3 separate regions of the Homo sapiens genome follow, and regions 1 and 2 are each linked to region 3. The links come from fine-mapping of genetic effects on gene expression. A gene starts in region 3. Each other region holds a variant in brackets. All regions are shown on one strand. Distances are from middle to middle. Region 1 overlaps CELF3 (CUGBP Elav-like family member 3). Region 2 overlaps SNX27 (sorting nexin 27). Region 3 holds the start of SNX27 (sorting nexin 27).

Region 1 (7,416 bases), 96 kb after region 3:
CAGGCCCCTGCGGCTCTCCTGGGGCCTGCACGGGTAGAACAGGCCCACTGTTGGGGGAGGCAAGTACAAACGCTGGGTACAGAAGGCCTGTCACAGGAGCCCAGCAGAAGGCAGATACCCCGGAGCCTTCGAGCCTGTTCCTCGCTCCCTCACAAAGGCCAAAAGGGCATCTAGGAGGAAATGGGCCCTTGGAGCCAGGGAAGCATAGCCATGGCCCTTCAGAGAGGCAGGGGGGTGGGAGGGGCCGGTGTCTTGTGCCCCCGGGGGCCACGAAGCAGCGTTTGCCCCAGAACCCAGTCAAGGCCCAGGGCAGGTGTGCGGAGAGGGCCGGGGCCAGTCGTGGGAAGAGGGTGTGAGGCGCCCCTTCCTCTGGGATCTCCAGACCTGTGAAGGAAGAAACATGGGTGAAGCATGGGGAAGAGACCCCCGATGCGGATCACGGGCTCTGGGGGAGGGGAGGGGGCTGGGGTGAGTGACAGCATCTAGGATGGGGCTGCCTGAGGAAGGCAGATCATCAGGCCTCAGTCCAAACGGACCCATCTGCCCCCACCCCCAGCCATGAGAGCAGGGATAGAGGAGACAGGAGGGAGGGGGCAAACCATACAGGAAACCAAACGGTATTAGGAAGGAAATAGATAGCCCATGAGAAAAATAAAGACTGGAGGGGGAGAGAGGCAAAGAGATGACAACAGACAGGCAGGCAGAGAAATCGAGAGAGAGACAGAGAAGGGGGTGCGTGTAAGAGACAGACACCTGGAAAAAGAAAGGGAACACCCGCAGAGAAGGCCAGGGCAGAGCCCAGGTCACGGCTCAGGGATGGAGTCTCATGGGGTGAGACCACCCCCGGCCCCCAGTTAGTGCTCTCATTCCTTTTTGGAAAGGAACACAGAAAGCAAGAGAAATGCACAGAACACAGACCACAGTCACCAACCACTGTAGACCAAGCACGTCCCGCGAGCTGCCCCCGGCCCTGACCTTGGGCTTGGGGGTGCTTCCCTCCGCGGCCCCTCCCCAAAGAACAAACAATCGGCTCCAAAGACAACACGCTCGTTCCATGCAACTTACAGGGGCCCGGAGCAGGGGTCCGGGGATGGGGGCTTCGGCCGACAATGGACACGGGCCCTGGGCTGGGGGGGCCCCCAGGGTTGGGGGAGTTAAGCAGCCAGGATTGGGGGGAAAGGGGAGAAACAGAAAATGTGGGTATTTTTCTTGGGTTGTGTTTTCTCAAGGGTTTGGTCCAAAGGAGATTAAACAGTGCGAAAGTAACCAAGGCTCACAGCTCTGTGGCCATGAGGTTGAGGTGGTGGCCAGCAATGGGGTGGAGGAGACCTAAGTAAACTTCACAGGCGGCGCGACATTTCAACCTCTTCCACCTAAACCAGAGCAACTCCCAAGAGGCCTGAAAATGGGCTCCCCCAGTCTGTCCTGTGCACTCTGCTGCCCCATGGGTCTGCTGCTACATGGGAAAAATCACCTGAAGTCCAGGGAAACCAGGGCTGATGTCCTCACTTCTCAGGACAACAGAGATTCTAGGAGCCAAGGATTCTAGGGCCCTCTGGCACCCTCAGCCAACCCCTTAATCCTCCAGTCCTGTTCCCCTAATTCCACTCTAACCCGAAGGAAAACCAGAAAGAGACACACACAGACATGGACACTGACCAGACAAACGAGACCAGATATTGTGGAAGGTCCAGGGAGTGGACACATATATACAAAGACTTGGCTCTTTCTGGGGTCACGGAGGGTGTGTGTGTGTGAGAGAGAGAGAGAGAGAGAGAGTGACTCAGATTATTGAAAAACAGCTGAGGGAGCTGCCCCAGCCCCCTGCTTCAAGTGCCCAGGGTCAAGGGTGGGGTGGGCATCCCTGAGGGTGGTGGAGGACAGGGGTTGGGGGTGTAGTCCAATCGAGGGCCCTGGCTGCAGTGTGTGAAGCTGGGGAGGGAGGCCACAACGGAGCGGGACCCACCTGGGGGCCCTCAGTAGGGCCGGTTGGCATCCTTAGGCCGCTTTAGCTGGACTTTGAGGCGCTTCATGCCGATCTGGAAGCCATTCATGGCCTGGATGGCAGCCTGGGCACTGGCCGGATTGTCGAAACTCACAAAGCCTGGGGTGAGAGGGGCATAAGGCCCGGCCCAGCCCCACCTCGCTCTTCCGTGCTTAGGAGACCTCTGGCACTACCCTGTGTCTCCCAAGTGTCCCAAATGCCTAGAAAGCTGCCTGCCACATAGCAGCATTCCTTAGGAATTTGTTGATTGATGGGTTGAATGGATGAATCCAGTCCAGCCACTCCAACTACCACATTCTTCCCAGCATTCTGTGCCAGTGACCCCTTCCTCTGCCTGGATAGCTCTGAGCCTGCCCTTTGAAAACGGCCACTTCCAGACCCTAAATGGCTTCTGAAGCAGAGAAGAACATTCCCTTTCTCCCCTGAGGAAGACTTTCAAAGATGTGAAGGCAGCTAAAACCGACTCCCCAAGCCCACCTTTTGCAAACCAAACATCCCCAGACCATAAGCCTATTTCAGACCTCATGGGACATGAATTTGGCCAGTTTTTAAGAGAAACGCTGAAGGAAGAAGAGATGGGCCGAGGCAGCAGCTGGGTGTGGCATGTTGGGTGTGTCAAAATGGCTCTTTTGTACTCTTGGATAATCAGTATTTCAAATACTGGGTCCACTGTGACCATAAATGCCTTCAAATATATTAGACCTTGTCCTGATTTGGAGTATGGCAAAAAATGTGCCATATCATATTCTTACCAAAACATTTGCTTTGATTGGTGGCTCGGTCAACAAAGACTTTGGCTGAGATGACGTGGCCAAAGGGGACAAACATCTGGAGGATCTCTGAGTCAGTGAACTCCTGGGGCAGGTGGTAGATGAAGATGTTGCAGCCATCAGGGCCTGGGTGGCGACAGAGACAGAAGAAAGAGCTCAGTGACTGGGAGGCACACACCCCAGAAGCAAATGTCCCAGGGAAAGCAGATCCTGGGAGTGCCCTCCAGTCCCAGTCCTTGACAGTGTGGGCCAAGTCTCCGGCCACTCCCTCCCCACTTGCTTTCATCCTGACACGTGGGCAAGAGCTGGGCTCAGCGCGGGGTGACAGGGAGTCCCCAAGCCCATAACGAGGGCATTCCTGTCTCCCAAGGCCCCAGCCAGCACCTTCTCTTTGCTGCTGCTGCTGTTGCTGCTGCTGCTGCTGCTGCTGCTGTTGAGGTGGTGGTGGGGGCTGCTGGGCGACCAGGGCTGGAGGCTGCGGGAACGCAGGTGCAACCAGGCTGTAGGCTGCTGGGTAGGCTGCTGGGGTGGGGAGAAGAGAGAGGCTGATGGGGCTTCCCTGACTTCTTGAGCCCTCCCAGCCAACCCTGTCTCCCTTCCCCTAGCCCAGGCCAGTGGCACCTGCAGGGCTGAGAGGTGGTCAGGGAAGGAGCTGCCTCAGACCCCTGGGTGTGCTGCCCTTAAAGACCCCTCCCCACAGTTGGGCTTGTCAGTAAAGCCTGAAGAGGGTGATTGGCAGGGAGCCAAGAAGCCCAGACCCAGTTACTGGGCCTCTTTTCCTCCTGCCACCTCTCCCACCTGAGCAGGGGCCCTGGCTAGGGCGCCTCACCTGTGTAGTGCTGCATCCCCGCGTAGGCCTGCTGCAGGGGGTCCACGGGGGCCGCGGGGCTCTGGGCTGGGGAGAGCAGCACAGACTATGAGCGTGGACCTGGCACACAGTGGGGGCCCTCAGTGCCTCTCTGGGCCTCTGGGCCGAGGCCAGGCAGGTGGGGAGCAGAGCTTCTCTGGGCATGGGGTGTGAAGTGAGAAGGCAGAAATGCACAAAGCAGTGGGAAGAGGGGAAAGAGCCCAGCGTTAGGAAGACTTGGGTCTGACTGTCTTGCAACCCTGGACAGGTCGCTTCACTGCTCTACACCTCAGCTTCCTGGCCGAGCCCAACAGGAAGGATCATCCCCGCCCA[G/C]GATGGCAGGGCAGGAGGAAGCACCTGTACCCCCAAAGCTGGGAGGGAAGGTGTGTCCTGCCTCCCTAATGGGAGTGGTGGTTTAGATGGTTGCTGGGACGGAGTGGGCAGGCAGAGAGTCCCACCTGGGTAGGGGTGAACCCCGTTGGGATACAGAGCATCAGGGGCAGGCTGCCCAGTGGGCTGGGTGGGCACCGGGCTGTAGCCGTTGACGCCCAGGGCAGCCGGAATGGCAGAGACAGGCGTGGCAGCGATGGCAGGAGGGGTGCTGGTTCCTGGGGAGGAGAAAGCGACAGGGAGAGAGCAGAGGAGCAGACACACACACAGGCAGAGAACCAGTCAGCAAGTCTGTGGGCAGAGGGGAGGAAGCAGGCCTCTCTGACCCCTGAGTCCCTCCCAGACCCCGAGGCTTCCCTGAGCAATGCCCTGTGCCCCTCCCTACCCCTACCATGCTTAGCTCCCTTGCCCGGCCTTGCCCAGGCCATACCTGAGGATGGGGTGATGGGGGTGGCGATGAGGCCATTGGCATTGATGGCAGCCATGTGCTGCATCTGCACGGCAGCCATGGTGGCCATGGGGCTGAGGTAGGCACTGTGAGCCGCTACCAGGGCCGCCTGCTGCTGCATCAGCTGGGGGGAGGGGAGAGGAGAGTGGGGCAGGCCCCCTGTGCCCAAGCCTGGCTCCCTCCCAGCCCGGGGCCTTGGCATCGGGAGGGTGGGGGCAAGATACAGGGGGTCAGGAGGGCTGGCCCGGCATCAGGGGCAGTGCTCACGGCCTGGGTGTAGGCGCTGTAGGCTCCAAACTGGAGGGCGATGGGGCTGAACATGCCCAACTGGGTGGCCACCTGCTGCATGCGGCGGAGACCTCGCTCCTTCTCAGTGTCAGCAAACTTCACCACCAGGCTGGACGAGGCACCCTGGGCACGGGCCCACACACAGGTCAGAGGTGCAGGGTCAGGGTCTCTCCTCCCCAAAGCCCTCAGGACCTGGTCTCCATTCCACCCCCATGGCATGGCTTGGCCTCTCTGAGAGGGCGGCCACCATTTTGCGTATGAAAGATGGGGAGATATTAATCCCACTCTCTCCCTATGCTAGGATGTGCAAGAGGCTAGAAGAAAAAATGAGGAATGTGAAGGCACATGCTTGGAAAGTGAAAAGCCTACTGGAATGAAAAGGGCATCATTGGCTACTCTGTGAGGACTCTGAACTGGAAATCATCCCCACCCTGGGTTGCCACAGCAAATGTTTAATCTCAGGCTAGTCTTCCCTTGTAGCTGCCCTGCGTGCCTTACCACGACTCCTGCCCCCACACCCCAGTCCTCATGGTGTGCCTCAAATCTTAATACTAGTCTGAGCTGAATAAAAACCAAATTGGAGCATTTGCAAGGATGATGGTAGAATCCTAGAATCTCAAAGCTGGAAGGGGCATAGGGTCATTGGACACAGTTCTCTACCCAATGCTGTGTCCCCTCCACCAAGGCCCCGTGAAATGTCTGCCCAGCCTTTGCTGGAGAGCTGTGAGTTATGGGAAGTGCACAGCCTTCTGAGTCAGCCAGTTCCAATTTAGAGGTGGGCTCTAGACTGGTCACTGACCTAACGCTGCTGTGCAGGGGCAGGGAAGAGGGGTGCACGTGGGGCCTCTAAGCAAGTGTCCTGGCGCCCCAGCAAATGAGGGTAGGGGGATATGGGAAGGCTGGAGAAGAGACGGGGGTGAAGGGAGGGCTGGGGAATGGAGGGAGAAGGAGAGGGATGTGAGGGAATTTGGCTGAAGGTGGATGGGGAATAGGGGAGGAGTGGGGAGGTGGGGAAGTGCCATTTGAAATGTGAGGGTGTCCCTAAGCAGTTTGGTTCTTCTGCCAGGACATTCCTTTCCAATAAATTCAAATAGCCCATCCTGAGTGGACTGCTTCTCTGGGCCAGGGCCTGGCAGGTGGGCAGGGTGGGAAGGAGAGGCCCGGGGGCAGGGGAGTGGGGCTCACTGGCAGGGTCCGGCTGCTGTGAAGGGTGTTGATGGCCGCCTGGGCCTCAGCGTGGGTCTGGAACTTCACGAAGGCGCAGCCTGGAGAGGTTGAGATGGAGGAGGAGAGGGGTAAGCACCCATCCCTGCGGGACCCCGCGGTGGAACCCGATGCCTAGGGAGTCTTGGGGGTGGAACAGGAAGGGGAAGGGCCCGGTGGGGAAGGGGGAAGTGGGTGGACTACCTTTGCTGGTGCCATCTGGCCCCCGGAGCACAGTGCACTCGTCGATGGTCCCGAAGGGCTCAAACATCTTCCGGACGTCCTCATCTGTCTGCTGCTTCCCTAGCATCCCCACAAAGAGCTTCCGGTCTTCTGGGTGGTAGGGCACAGGAGGAGGGCATGTTCAGGGCCTCCTGGCTGCCTTCCCAGCCCTTCTTCCGCCCTTCCCTGGAGCTCCTAACACTACTTCTGCTACCCTTAGGGTCCAATGGCTGTAGGGGCTGATGGTTGGGGAATGGGGTATAGTTGCAGAGGGTGCTCATCCCAGCTCTGAGGGACTCGCACTCCACCCTGGGCCTCAGTTTTGCCATCTGTACCCGCCCCAGATCTCACCCGCTCTGGCCACACTGACTCCTATCTCACCGCAGCTGGGAACTCTTCAGAATCATCAGGCTTTCTCCCTCAAGAAAGGCTACCCCTCGACAACTCCAGGCCCTGGGCCTGGGGGTGGGAGGAGAGGGACAGAGTCCAAAGGCACAGAACCTACCTCCTCGGCTCTCGCTGTCGGCTGGCTTGACCTGGATCGGCCTGTTCATCTGAAGGAGAGAAGAGAAGGCAGCTGCTGGGGACCTCCTCTGAACACCCAAGAGCCCTCCCAGGCCAGGCCCTGCAGAGAGACTAGAGGGGCAAGCCCCAGGCCCTCTAAGTTTCTGATGGGAAGGAAGGGACAGGGCCTAATACTGTTCAGGATGAAGGCCTGAGGGGATCAGAGGCACAGAGAGAGAGGATGTAGAGGGAGAGGCTCATGGGCACAGCTCCAGGCTCAGGTTGGGCTCCTGATGACTTGGCCAGGGATGGGTGCTGCTGTCCTGAGTGGGAGAAGGGGGCCTGCACATAGGACCCGGGGCCTGAGAGAGAGCCCGACCAAGGAGTTATTTAATAAGAATTGCCTCAATTCTACAAAGTGGGCGCAACAGAGGCCACTCTGAAGAAGCCCCAAGGAGGACTCTAGACTGAGGGAGACCCCACAAAGGCCCAGACTTCCTTCTGACCTCTAGAGGTGTGTCTGCCTCTCTTTCTGCCCCCCTATACCCCTTGACCCCAGGGGGAAGGCACTCGGGCAGCACAAAGGGAGCAGATGCCCAGTCTCCGTGGCAACGGGAGAATGCGCACCATGGCAACCGCCCACTCAGCCTGATTTATCCGTCCCCGTCGCCCTGGCGACCGTGGTGACGTCATCACTTCTGCTGCTCCACACACCCAGAGAAGGAGTGGGGTGGGGGGT
Region 2 (5,000 bases), 71 kb after region 3:
TGGGGTTTTACCATGTTGCCCTGGCTGGTCTCAAAACTCCTGGTCTCAAATGATCCACCCAGCTTGGCCTCCCAAAGTGCTGGGATTACAGGCATGAGCCACCGCACCTGGCCACAAACACTGTGCCTGGCAGCTGTTTTTTGATGGACTAAGTAAACAACTGTATCTTTTGAAAAGTATATTAAATTTCTCTTACTTAATTTCAATTATTTTTGTATCATATTTTGATGGTAGGAATATTTAACGAATTTCACAGTTCTAAAATGTTATCAATTATAAGATGCACCATTATTTTATGTATTGATAAGAGAAAAAAGCTGTCAGTTAAACTGATACATCATTGATTGTAAGATACATCCCAATTTCAGAAATGTTAAAATATGAAATAATGTATTCATTTAAATTGATGAGATATTATATGTTAGTTGCTAATGGTAATAATGAACCTTTTCCTTAAAAATTAATAAGGTAGAAATTAATCATTTATATTTAAATTCTGGCTAAACCTAGCAAAGTGTACACACATTTAAGCTGCTGTTTCCTGAAAGCTCACAAAAGTAGCAGTATTGGAATTTTAAAAAGCGTAAACTTGCAAGGACAAAGAGAACAAGGGAGGATACCACAGCAAATGACAACCGTTGACAGTTTTTAGAAAATGAATGTCTAAGTAAAAGAGTTTTGATATTTGGTTATTGTGGAGGAAAAATTGGTGATAGGTACATGGGAAGTTACAAACAAAAACACGAGGCATTTAACCTCAGAGGAAATAAAAAATTTTGCAAGAAAGGAAGTCATAGCATAGTATATAGCTTAGTTGTGAATAGTGTTTACATATTTATAATAATGCAGTTATTGAGTATTTAATTTTTTATTGAGAAGTTGGGGGAAGAGGAAGTGGGAGTGTTTGGGTGCTACAAGAGAGTTAAAACCAAATATTTTCAACACAGTAAGTCAACAGTGTCTAAAATTGGTAAGTCAAGAATTGTCAATGTAAGCATGCCATTTAGAATTATGGAGGGATTATCACAAGAAATTGCTTAAAGTGCCTAAAAGTAGTTGCTTTTGTGGAATGACGCTCTGGGATCAGAGGCTGCTGTTTTTATTAGGAGCCTTTTAGTACTATATGTTTTGTTTTTTTAAATTATATACATCTTTTACTTTAATTAAAAAAATTTAAGAAGAAAAGGAAACTAGGGTGGTGATATTTATGTTTTCCACTTAGTCAGTCAAGCAGTGTAATCTTTTTTTTTTTTTTTTTGAGACAGAGTCTTGCTCTGTCTCCCAGGCTGGAGTGCAGTGGCATGATCTGGGCTCACGGAGATGTAACCTCCGTCTTCCGGGTTCAAGTGATTCTCTTACCTCAGACTCCCGAGTTGCTGGGATTACCTGCTCCCTCCTCCACATCCGGCTAATTTTTGTATTTTAGTAGAAATGGGGTTTCAACATGTTGGCCAGGCTGGTCTTGAACTCCTGACCTCAAGTGATCCTCCCGCCTCCACCTCCCAAAATGATGGGATTGCAGGCGTGAGCTACCACACCTGGGTAAGCAATTTCTTGATTAGAAATGAAAGAAGACCATTTTTACTGCCCCATGTGTAAAAGAGCTCACTTGGAATTGCTGGAGTAGATAATCACTGTGACCCACCTCTGCCTTGGGAAAGTGTTCATCAAATATTAGTACTGTTGTGAGTCAGACATAGTTCTAGGCGTTAGGGGTAAAAACAAAACAGAAAGACAGTATTCTTATATTCTTATTCTCATCGAAACAATACAGAAATAAAGAAAAATAGTTGTAAAGCCTTTTCCCTGAGCTAAATAACACTGTAAGTTTCTTTGGAAACTGGATAGACCAGTATTGTTTATTTATTTCCCCCCTCTACTTCTCTGCTGGCTTTTCAATAATTGGTTTAAATTTGGCTGGAGC[A/C]GTACAGTGTTTTGGTGATGAAGAGGAAAGTGTTCAGGATCTTCAGGACATTGACATTGCATCGTGGTTCTTCTTGAACATCCCCTCTGTGGCTATAATCCTCGGTGCCTAAGTGAGCCTTCACTTGTATGGCCAGGTTGGGGAGAGACTGGCATAATCTTTCTATTAGTCACTTCCTGGCAGGACATTCATATCCTTGTACGGTTCTTAGAAGAACTTAATAGCTAAATGATACTAATAATAGCTACTGATATATACTTTACAAAACTCTTAACATCTGTCATCTTTTTCTTGTACATCTATGAGATATTCCAGTTTTACACAGTGAAAGGGTTTACATGACTTATGCAAGTACACATTGGTAGGTGACAGAACTAGAAGTTGAATTAGTCTCTCAATCTTTTTTTTTTTTTTTTTTTTTTTTGCGATGGAGTCTTGCTCTGTCACCCAGGCTGGAGTGCAGTGGTGCTATCTCGGCTCACTGCAAGTTCCGCCTCCTGGGTTCACGCCATTCTCCTGCCTCAGCCTCCTGAGAAGCTGGGACTACAGGCGCCTGCCACCTCTCCCCGGCTAATTTTTTGTATTTTTAGTAGAGACAGGGTTTCACCATGTTAGCCAGGATGGTCTCGATCTCCTGACCTCGTGATCCACCCGCCTTGGCCTCCCAAAGTGCTGAGATTACAGGCATGAGCCACCGCGCCTGGCCCTCTTGACTTAATCTTGAACTCATTTGCCTATCCAACTATCTTTCCTTAAAATACTCTGGGAAATGCTTTCCACCTTGAGTACCAAACATCATTGATCTTCCTTATTTCATTCTCTCTTCAGGTTAATTCATGTGGCTTTCAAACACAAATCAAACTTTCTTTAATAAAGAAGGAGCCATTTCTTATTGCTTATTTTAGCTCCCTGTTGTTTATTTCCTTAAGTCTAAATTCCTGTGCCTACTTTTTAGGATTTTTCATAATCTAGTGTTAGTCTGCCTATCCAGCATTATCTTTAATTGTCTCCTGTTCCCTTATTTAAATCAGGCAAATCTGTTTTCTCAAAGTATTTAAGCACAGACTCATTCCTGTTTCCTATCTTTAGCTTATAGTTTCTCTTCTTCATTCTGTTCTTTGGGGATCCACCTAAGGCTTCCCTGATAACTGTAATTATCAATAAGTGCTTCCATTCTGACTGCCTATATCACTGTCTGTACCATACATGTTTGCTATTTCATTGTAATGCAGCATTATATACTGTCTTTCAGTGCTCTCTAATTGTTTACACATGTATAAAATAACTGGAATTTAAGTCCTCTGACACGAGAAACCAGATCTCTCACATATACCTAAAAGAATGCTTGAGCGCTTGCCAGATATTCTTTAAATGCTAGTTATTCCAATAAGTATACCTGTTACTGGATGTGTTAGTCCATTTTCACACTGCTATAAAGACACTACCTGAGATTAGGTAATTTATAAAGAAAGGAAGGTTTTTTTTTGTTTGTTTGTGCTTTTTTGAGATGGAGTCTCGCACTGTCACCTGGGCTGGAGTGCAGTGGCATGATCTCAGCTCACTGCAACCTCTGCCTCCTGGGTTCAAGCGATTGTCCTGCCTCAGCCTCCCGAGTAGCTGGGATTACAGTTGCCTGCCACCATGCCCAGCTAATTTTTTGTATTTTTAGTAGAGACGGGGTTTCATCATGTTGGCCAGGCTGGTCTCGAACTCCTGACCTTGTGATTCACCCGCCTCAGCCTCCCAAAGTGCAAGAAAGGAAGTTTAATTGACTCACAGTTTCGCATGGCTTGGGAAAGCCTCAGGAAACTTACAATCATGGCATAAGGTGAAAGGGAAGCAAGCACCTTCTTCACAAGGTGACGAGAGAGAGAGCACATGCAGGGGGAACTGCTGTTTTTAAAACTATCAGATCTAGGCCAGGTGCGGTGTCTCATGCCTGTAATCCCAGCACTTTGGGAGGTCGAGGCGGGCAGATCACTTGAGGTCAAGAGTTGGAGACTAGGCTGGCCAATGTAGTGAAGCCCCATCTCTATTAAAAATACAAAAATTAGCTGGGCGTGATGGCTCATGCCTGTAGTCCCAGCTACTCTGGAGGCTGAGGCAAGAGAATCGCTTGAACCTGGGAGGCGGAGGTTTCAGTGAGTCGAGATTGTGCCACTGCACTCCAGCCTGGGTGACAGAGCCAGACTCTGTCTCAAAACAAACAAAAAAACCCCATCAGATCTTGTGAGAACTCCCTCACTATCATGAGACCAGCATGGGGAAACCAGACCATGATCCAGTCACCTCCCACCGGGTCCCTCCCTCGACATATGGGGACTACAATTTGAGATGAGATTTGAGTGGAGGCACAGAGCCAGACCATATCCCTGGACATGTGGCAGAGTTCACTGGTAATGATGGTGGTCCAAGTGGATAAGAGATTTTCTGAAAATGCGTCTGTGTCTGTTTTCATCGAGAATGTACATAATAATGATTTTTACACTCCTTTCTGCTCTACTTCTGTTTTGGTGATAGGCAGTCGATGATGTGAAGAAAGGTTACATCAAAGCAGAAGAAAAGTCCTATCAATTACAGAAGCTATACGAACAAAGAAAAATGGTCATGGTAAGTTTATGTCCCCATAATCCCTTTAAAAATGCCCCTTCCTACCTTTAAAACCTATAGTCCTAGTCATTTTTGAAAGGATTACAACCTGGTTAGTGGCTTAACTAATTTTAAAAAAGGAGGGGAATAGGGACCTTGATGCAAAGTCCATTGTGTTTCTCCATTTAACACACAAAGATCTTGAATTACTGTGTATTAGTACATAATTTTATTATTATTTTGGGGGGTGGGGTGGGGGAGGGACAGAGTCTTGCTCTGTTGCCCAGGCTGAAGTGCAGTGTCGCGATCTAGGCTCACTGCAACCTTTGCCTCCTGGGTTCAAGCGATTCTCCTGCCTCAGCTTCCCGAGTAGCTGGGACTACAGGCATGTGCCACCACACCCAGCTAATTTTTGTATTTGTAGTAGAGACAGGGTTTTGCCATGTTGGCCAGGCTGGTCTCGAACTCTTGACCTCAGGTGATCCAC
Region 3 (7,100 bases):
TGTTATTGTGAGAACGAGACAAGCTCTTGGATGCAAAGTGCTCTGTCAATGGTCCAGATCCTATTTCTGAAAGCAGCATCATTGACTCCCACTCTCTCTGGGTCCCCCAGCCCCCTGGCTCCTCTTTCACTGGATGCTCTCCCTCTTTCAGTCTCCTAAATGGGGTGACCATGGGAGCAGATTCTCCACGTTCTGGACTTGGCACTCTTCTCATCTGACTGCACAGTATGTTTTGGGGTTCTCATCTACCACCACCCAGGGCTGATGGCTCCCAAATCTAAGTTCTGGCCCAGACTCCTTTCCCCAGGTCCACACTCATGTGTTCAACCAGTTGTTGGACAATTCCTCTGGGCTTTCCCAAAGGCCCCAAATTAAACTAATCTTCTTCTTGTTTAAATCAAACAAATTTAAACAAATTAAATTAATTTTCCCTGCAAACCTCTTCCGCTTCCTTTTTATGCCATGTCTTGGGGAATCACATCACCATGTCAGGAATCTTATGTCATTCCTTCCTCCCCTACCTTTGCACCTGAGATCCTAGTGGTCACCAAGTCCCTTCTCTCCTGTGCATCCCCCTCCTTGTATTCCCACCACTACTGCCCTAGTTGGCACCTCATTAATTCCCACTGGAATCACTGCAAATGCTTCATAACTGATCTTTCTATCTGACTTCATTCTCCACACATCCTGCAGCATGAACTTTTTGAAGCACAGATTTGTGAATGCCTGTGCTCTGCTTAAAAGCAATCAGAGGCCCCTCACTAATAAGGAATGAAATTCAAACTCCTGGGCATGATATTTGATTTTTTTTTTTTTTGAGACAGAGTCTTGCTCTGTTGCCCAGGCTGGAGTGCAGTGGCGCAATCTCGGCTCACTGCAAGCTCTGCCTCCTAGGTTCACGCCATTCTCCTGCCTCAGCCTCCCGAGTAGCTGGGACTACGGGTGCCCGCCACCATGCCCGGCTAATTTTTTTATTTTTTATTTTTTGTATTTTTAGTAGAGAAGGGGTTTCACCATGTTAGCCAGGATGGTCTCGATCTCCTGACCTCGTGATCCGCCCACCTCGGCCTCCCAAAGTGCCGGGATTACAGGCGTGAGCCACAGCGCCCGGCCGATATTCGATATTTTAAGCCCTCCTGGATCTGACTCTTGCCCACCTCCCCTGTCCACTTCCTGTCTCCTCTGCTCCAGTCCTACTGAACTGTGTGGTCTCACACTGTACTGTGTTCTTTCAAATCTCTGTGTGTTTGAATATGCTGTTTCCTTTGTCAGAAATGCCCTTCCACCACTATCCTTCTCTGCCGCAATTGCTAACTCTTCTCATCTGTAATCACTTAGCTCAGCTCTCCCATTTCGTGAGTCATCTTCCCTAACTCCTCCCTCTGGATACGTGGAAGTCCCTCCGATGTGCAATCCTAGCAGCTTGTGCAGGACTCTCCTCACAGCTCTCATCATGCTCTATTGCAATGGTTTTTTGTTTTCTCTCCTGCTAGATTGTGAATTCTCACCAGCAGTAATGGTGTCTTATTTTCTTTTGTTATTTTAATGCTCTGATCATCTTTTCTTCCAACCTGATCCTTTCTAAATATTTTTAAATTTATTTTTTGAATAGGCAACACTCATGTGACTGAAAATTCAGAAGTTACATAAAGGTATAAAGTGAAAAGTCTCTCTCCTACCCCTGTCCCCGCCTCTGACACCCTAGCTATCCAGTCTCCCTCCCCAGCAGCAATCAGTGTTATCAATTTCTTGTGAATACTTCTAAAGATATAAAAATATATATGGTTCCCTTTTATTTTATTATTATCTTTTTAGATGGAGTCTTGCTCTGTCGCCAGGCTGGAGTGCAGTGGCGTGATCTTGGCTCACTGCAACCTCCACCTCCCAGGTTCAAGCGATTCTCCTGCCTCAGCCTTCTGATGAATACAGGCACCTGCCATTATGCCCGGCTAATTTTTGTATTTGTTTTGTTTTGTTTGTTTTTGAGACAGAGTCTTGCTCTGTTGCCCAGGCTGGAGTGCAGTGGCACAATCTCAGCTCACTGCAACCTCCACCTCCCGGGTTCAAGTGATTCTTCTGCCTCAGCCTCCCGAGTAGCTGGGACTACAGGTGTGCACCACCACACCCGGCTAATTTTTGTATTTTTAGTGGAGACGGGGTTTCGCCATGTTAGCCAGGCTGGTCTCAAACTCCTGACCTCAGGTGATCCACCCACCTCGGCCTCCCAAAGTGTTGGGATTACAGGCGTGAGCCACCGTGCCTGGCCCATGGTTCCCGTTTTATATACAAATAGTATCATGTTGTATAGATTGTGCTGCACTTTGTTTTCACCAAATCATATATAGTATTGATGATATGATCATTCCATATAAGTGCATACAGAGCTTCCTTATTCTGTGTTTACATTGATTCAATTTTCCATTGTGGATACATTATGATTTAACAAATAAACATTAGGTTGTTTTCAGTCTTTTGTGAATACAAACAATGCTGCAATGACTTAACTTCATAAAAACATCACTTCACACATGTGCAAGTGTAACAGTAGAATGAACTCCTGGAAGTGGAATCGCCTTCAGTTTGAGGAATATGTGTATTTGTAAGTTTGACCATGTCCTGTTGCCTTTCGGGGACATTCAGTATATTTTTATCTAATTCAGAGTAGGCATTCAGTATATTTTTATCTAATAAACCAATGAAAAAATAACTCTTTTAGGGGAGGCTCCCTTCTTTTTCCTTTCTCTGATGCCTTGCTTTCCCCATCCAGTGCTCAGTTCAAACCAAATTATTCATATTCAATCCAAATGCCACTATTATTTTGGAGCAAAACTCTTATATCAACTTTATTGTGTAACTAGTCAAGATCCTTCTTCATTAGCTTGGTTGTAAAATAAGGTCATATTAATTTTTATGTTCTAATTATAATGACTTTGAGTCCTCATCCCATATTTTGTGAGATCTCATCTTTGTTTTTTGGAGACAGGATCTCACTCTGATGGTCAGGCTGGAGTACAGTGGTGTGATCTCAGCTCTCTGCAGCCTTGACCTCCTAGGCTGAAGCGATCCTCCCACCTAAACCTCCTAAGTAGCTGGGACTACAGGTATGTGCCATCATGCCCAGCTGCTTTTTTTTTTTTTTTAGATATAGTCTCGCTCAGCCACCAGCTAATTTTTTATTTTTTGTTGAGATGGGGTCTCACTATGTTGCCCAGTTTGGTCTTGAACTCCTGGGCTCAAGGAATCCTCCCACCTCGGTCTCCCAAAGTGCTGGTATTACAGGCATGAGCCACCACACCCAGCCTTTAAAAATTTGGGGGGACTCTTTTGTAATAACAGTTAGCTTAAAACACAAACACATTGTACAGATGTACAAAATATTTTCTTTCTTTATATCTTTATTCCATAAGCTTTTTTTCTATTTAAGGCAATTTTTAATTTTATGTTTTAAACTTTTTTTTTTGGTTAAAAACTAAGACTTAAACACAAACATAGCCTATGCCTACACCAGATCTGGATCATCAATTTCACTGTCTTCCACCTCCATCTCTTGTCTCACTGGAAGGTCTTCATGGGTAATAACATGCACAGAGCTGTCATCTGATGGTAACAATAACTGGGGCCAGGCACAGTGGCTCACACCTGTAATCCCAGCACTTTGGGAGGCTGAGGTGGTTGGATCACCTGAGGTCAGGAGTTCGAGACCAGCTTGGCCAACATGGTGAAACCCTGTCTCTACTAAAAATACCAAAAAATTAGCCAGGCATGGTGGCGCATGCGTTTAATCGCAAGGGATTTGGGAGGCTGAGGCAGGAGAATCACTTGAACCTGGGAGGCAGAGGTTGCGGTGAGCCGATATCGTGCCATTGCATTCCAGCCTGGGCGATAAGAGCGAAACTCCATCTTAAAAAAAAAAAAAACAAAAAAACAAAACAAAACAAAAAAACACAATACTTGGAATACGTGGAAAAAAATCACAATACTTAGAATACCTAGAATACCTTCTGAAGGACCTGCCTGAGGCTGCTTTACAGTTAACTTAAAAAAAAAAGTAGAAGGAGTACACTCTAAAATAGTGATAAAAACTACAGTGAATTCATAAACTAGTAACATAGTTCTTACCATTATCAAGTATTATGTACTGTACATAATCATATGTGCTATACTTTCACATGACTGGCAGTGCAGGTTTGTTAACACCAGCATCACTCCAAACATGTGAGTAATGCTTGTGCTATGACCTTATGGTGGCTACTGTGCCACTAGGTGATAGACATTTTTCAGCTCCATTATCATCTTAGGGGGCCTCCCTCGTGTTTGCAGTCCATTGTAGACCAAAATGTCCTTATGTGGCACATGACTGTAGTTGCAATACAGGACAAGAAAGTTGCACAATAACTGGGCCTTAGTTCCTGATACTTAGTAGCTGGATGACTTTGAGCACTCTAAGGTTGTTTCCTAATAACGTAAAATAGGGAAGCTAATCGTGATCCGGTTGCCTCACAGGTTGTTGGGCCCTGGTCAACATATAAGTTACTGTGCCAAAAAATGAGTTGATATAATTTAAGACTGTGTTGAATCACAAACGTTAAGTTATTCTAACATTATTGTTTTTTAGAGGTTATGAAATGAAAGGGGGGGGGGCGAAAAACTTGGTCCGCATCAAGAACTGAATCATTTTACCACGCTGGGTGCTGGGTTATACTCTCCCCACCCAGCAGATCAAACTCCTAACCCAGCATGAAAGATAAACTACAACTCCCGGCAGGCCTTGCTTCCGAACTGCGTCTTATAACCTCGGCTCAGGCCCAGGCCCAGACCGCTCCCCGCCCCCGCCACCCATAAACTACATCTCCCAGGAGGCCCCACGGTGCCCGATTGTCCGCTTTTCGCCCGCCCCCTGCCTCCTCTTCACCCCGCGCCAGCAGCTCGGTGGCCGAGTCGGTCCCGCGGCCGGCGGATCGGGCGCGCGCGTCGGGGGTCGTCCGGCTGCCAGGCAGGGCGAGCACGCGCCGGGAGGCCTTGGAGGCGTAGGGGGCGGGGGTACGGCTCGCCTGCTCGCAAGATGGCGGACGAGGACGGGGAAGGGATTCATCCCTCAGCCCCTCACAGGAACGGAGGTGGCGGCGGCGGCGGGGGGTCTGGGCTCCACTGCGCCGGGAACGGCGGCGGGGGAGGCGGCGGCCCGCGGGTCGTGCGCATCGTCAAGTCCGAGTCCGGCTACGGCTTCAACGTGCGGGGCCAAGTGAGCGAGGGCGGGCAACTGCGGAGCATCAACGGGGAGCTGTACGCGCCGCTGCAGCATGTGAGCGCCGTGCTGCCCGGGGGGGCGGCCGATCGGGCCGGGGTGCGCAAGGGGGACCGCATCCTGGAGGTGTGAGTATCGGGGCTACCCGCCGCCCCATCCTCCCCGCGCCCCTCCTGCCCCTGCACTCCTCGCTACCCTTGTCACCCCCAGGCCGCACCTCCCCCGAGCTCCGAGCCGGCCTCCGGACCCCCGCCCCTCAGGCCTCCGCAGCCGGGCCCCTCCTTGTGGGCTGCCCTCCCACCACCCGCCCCGGGGCTTCTGCGACGCCGGTCTCCCACCCCGTCGTCTCCAGCTGATGCCCTTGCGCCCCCAGTGCTCCTCCCTGTGCCCCGATTACTCTGGGCTCTTCTCCGCCCCTTTGCCTTCCCGTTTGGCGTGCTGCATTCTGCTCCTCACTCCCCCTCGTCTTGCTCAGAAGGAACCTCATCTGCTCCTTACTGACGGCGTTTCGTTTTCTGATCCAGCCAGTACCGTGTCCCCCCCAAGTTCTCATCTTCAGCATCGCAGTTTCGTTCTCCACCACTCCCCTCCGCCCCCGTGGACTGCCCCTTCTGCCCTCCAGACCAAGTAGGCAGGACCTCTGGTCTGCTCCTACTTTTCCTCCGGAAACACCATCCCTCCCCGCTCGTCTCCTTTTTCTTTCCTTAGTTACCCTCTCCTCATGGTTACGCTGCCCCTAAATTTTTCCATCCCACCGTGTGCCCCTTTCCTCCCCTCCTTTTTGTATTTCTACTCCAAGAGTTTACCTTGCTTTCTGACCCTTGCATGCCTTTGGGGTGGGGGGCGTGGGATTTGACACCGTAGTTTCTCTTCTCGGTTGGCCCCGTATCACACCCTAATTTGGAATCTAGCGTCTCCATCAGCACACCCCTCTGAGAGCATCCCTTCCCTGGCCTCCTGCCTTCACTCCTGCTCTATACTCATGCCTCCTCCTAGTCAGGTTTATGGTAGACCCCTTGTAACTCCTCCTCCTTCAAAACTACTTCAAGCCCTTTTTGGGTCTTTGACCGCTTTGCTTTTTTAGGGCATGCCCGTCTCTGCTGCCTCTTCTACTCTATCCTCCTGTGATCCCACACTTGACTTTGTCCTAGTCTTTCCCTCCCCTAGGCTGCTTTTCCTTTCTTCTGTTTTTTAAGGCGCCTTCTGCTGCTGCAGCCCACCCTCTCTCCCCTGCTGCAGTCCCTCCCCCTTCATACGCCTCCCCCACCACATCCCTCCATGCTCTTGCGGGATGCTGCCTTGTCTTGCAATCTCTGTGCACACCGCCTCCATTACCCTAATCTAGGTGTTACATTTGCCTTTTTGTACTTCGTATTGAAATTCGGATAGTGATTGCCGGTTGACTTGCAGGTGGTGTGTGCTCGCGTTGTCTCCGTTCTCCTCAGCAGTCTTCAGTGCTGTGTTTCTGCTTACTGAATCTATGTTGTGCATTCCTTTTTTACACTTTTACTCTCTCCCTCCATATTTCGATTTGCCCACTTGAAATCGTTCTCATTTTTTATAAATTTTAATTGTAATTTCCGCAACCTTCTGTTGCCTCTTGTAAAACAGTAGGTTTGCAAAAGGGATAGTTTTTTGAAAATCTGCCTTATAGAGAAATCCATTCCTTCTTACTCATCTCGTGCCATCTACCCTTATCCTTGACATTCTTAACTCCATGGTGTCCACTCATTCTGTTTCCTCACCTCTTCCACCTCAAGAAATGGTTGGTTTTAACCTGGGAGAGTTGATTGAAAAAAAAAAAAAGAAATAGTTGCTCACCTAGGCCAGTGTTTGGAGACAGTATACCTTTCCT

What was found. PIP is the estimated chance that this variant, and not a neighbour inherited with it, causes the effect.
Region 1: its variant is fine-mapped to the expression of SNX27 in whole blood (TOPMed, PIP above 0.99).
Region 2: its variant is fine-mapped to the expression of SNX27 in whole blood (TOPMed, PIP above 0.99). The same link has a PIP of 0.9 or more in T cells.

The regions. Positions count from the first base shown.
Region 1 is chr1:151,703,065-151,710,480 of GRCh38, forward strand. CELF3 (CUGBP Elav-like family member 3) reads right to left here. Exons shown (of 13, transcript NM_007185.7): 3 at 6,679-6,727; 4 at 6,156-6,284; 5 at 5,934-6,013; 6 at 4,728-4,871; 7 at 4,443-4,584; 8 at 4,081-4,230; 9 at 3,605-3,670; 10 at 3,160-3,297; 11 at 2,758-2,901; 12 at 1,967-2,104; 13 at 1-384. The coding sequence ends at 1,977. Among named protein-coding and RNA genes, the nearest start is that of CELF3, 10 kb to the right of the region's middle. RefSeq lists enhancers at 2,634-3,134, 3,135-3,635. The variant G/C (reference allele first, on the strand shown) is at 3,956.
Region 2 is chr1:151,678,912-151,683,911 of GRCh38, forward strand. It overlaps SNX27 (sorting nexin 27), which reads left to right. Exons shown (of 12, transcript NM_001330723.2): 8 at 4,445-4,534. Among named protein-coding and RNA genes, the nearest start is that of CELF3, 35 kb to the right of the region's middle. The variant A/C (reference allele first, on the strand shown) is at 1,925.
Region 3 is chr1:151,607,140-151,614,239 of GRCh38, forward strand. SNX27 (sorting nexin 27) reads left to right here and starts at 4,911. Exons shown (of 12, transcript NM_001330723.2): 1 at 4,911-5,373. The coding sequence starts at 5,063. It overlaps LOC124904420 (a long non-coding RNA gene), which reads right to left and starts at 6,229. Exons shown (of 2, transcript XR_007066622.1): 1 at 6,052-6,229; 2 at 3,378-5,260. RefSeq lists an enhancer at 4,687-4,786 and a silencer at 4,827-5,266.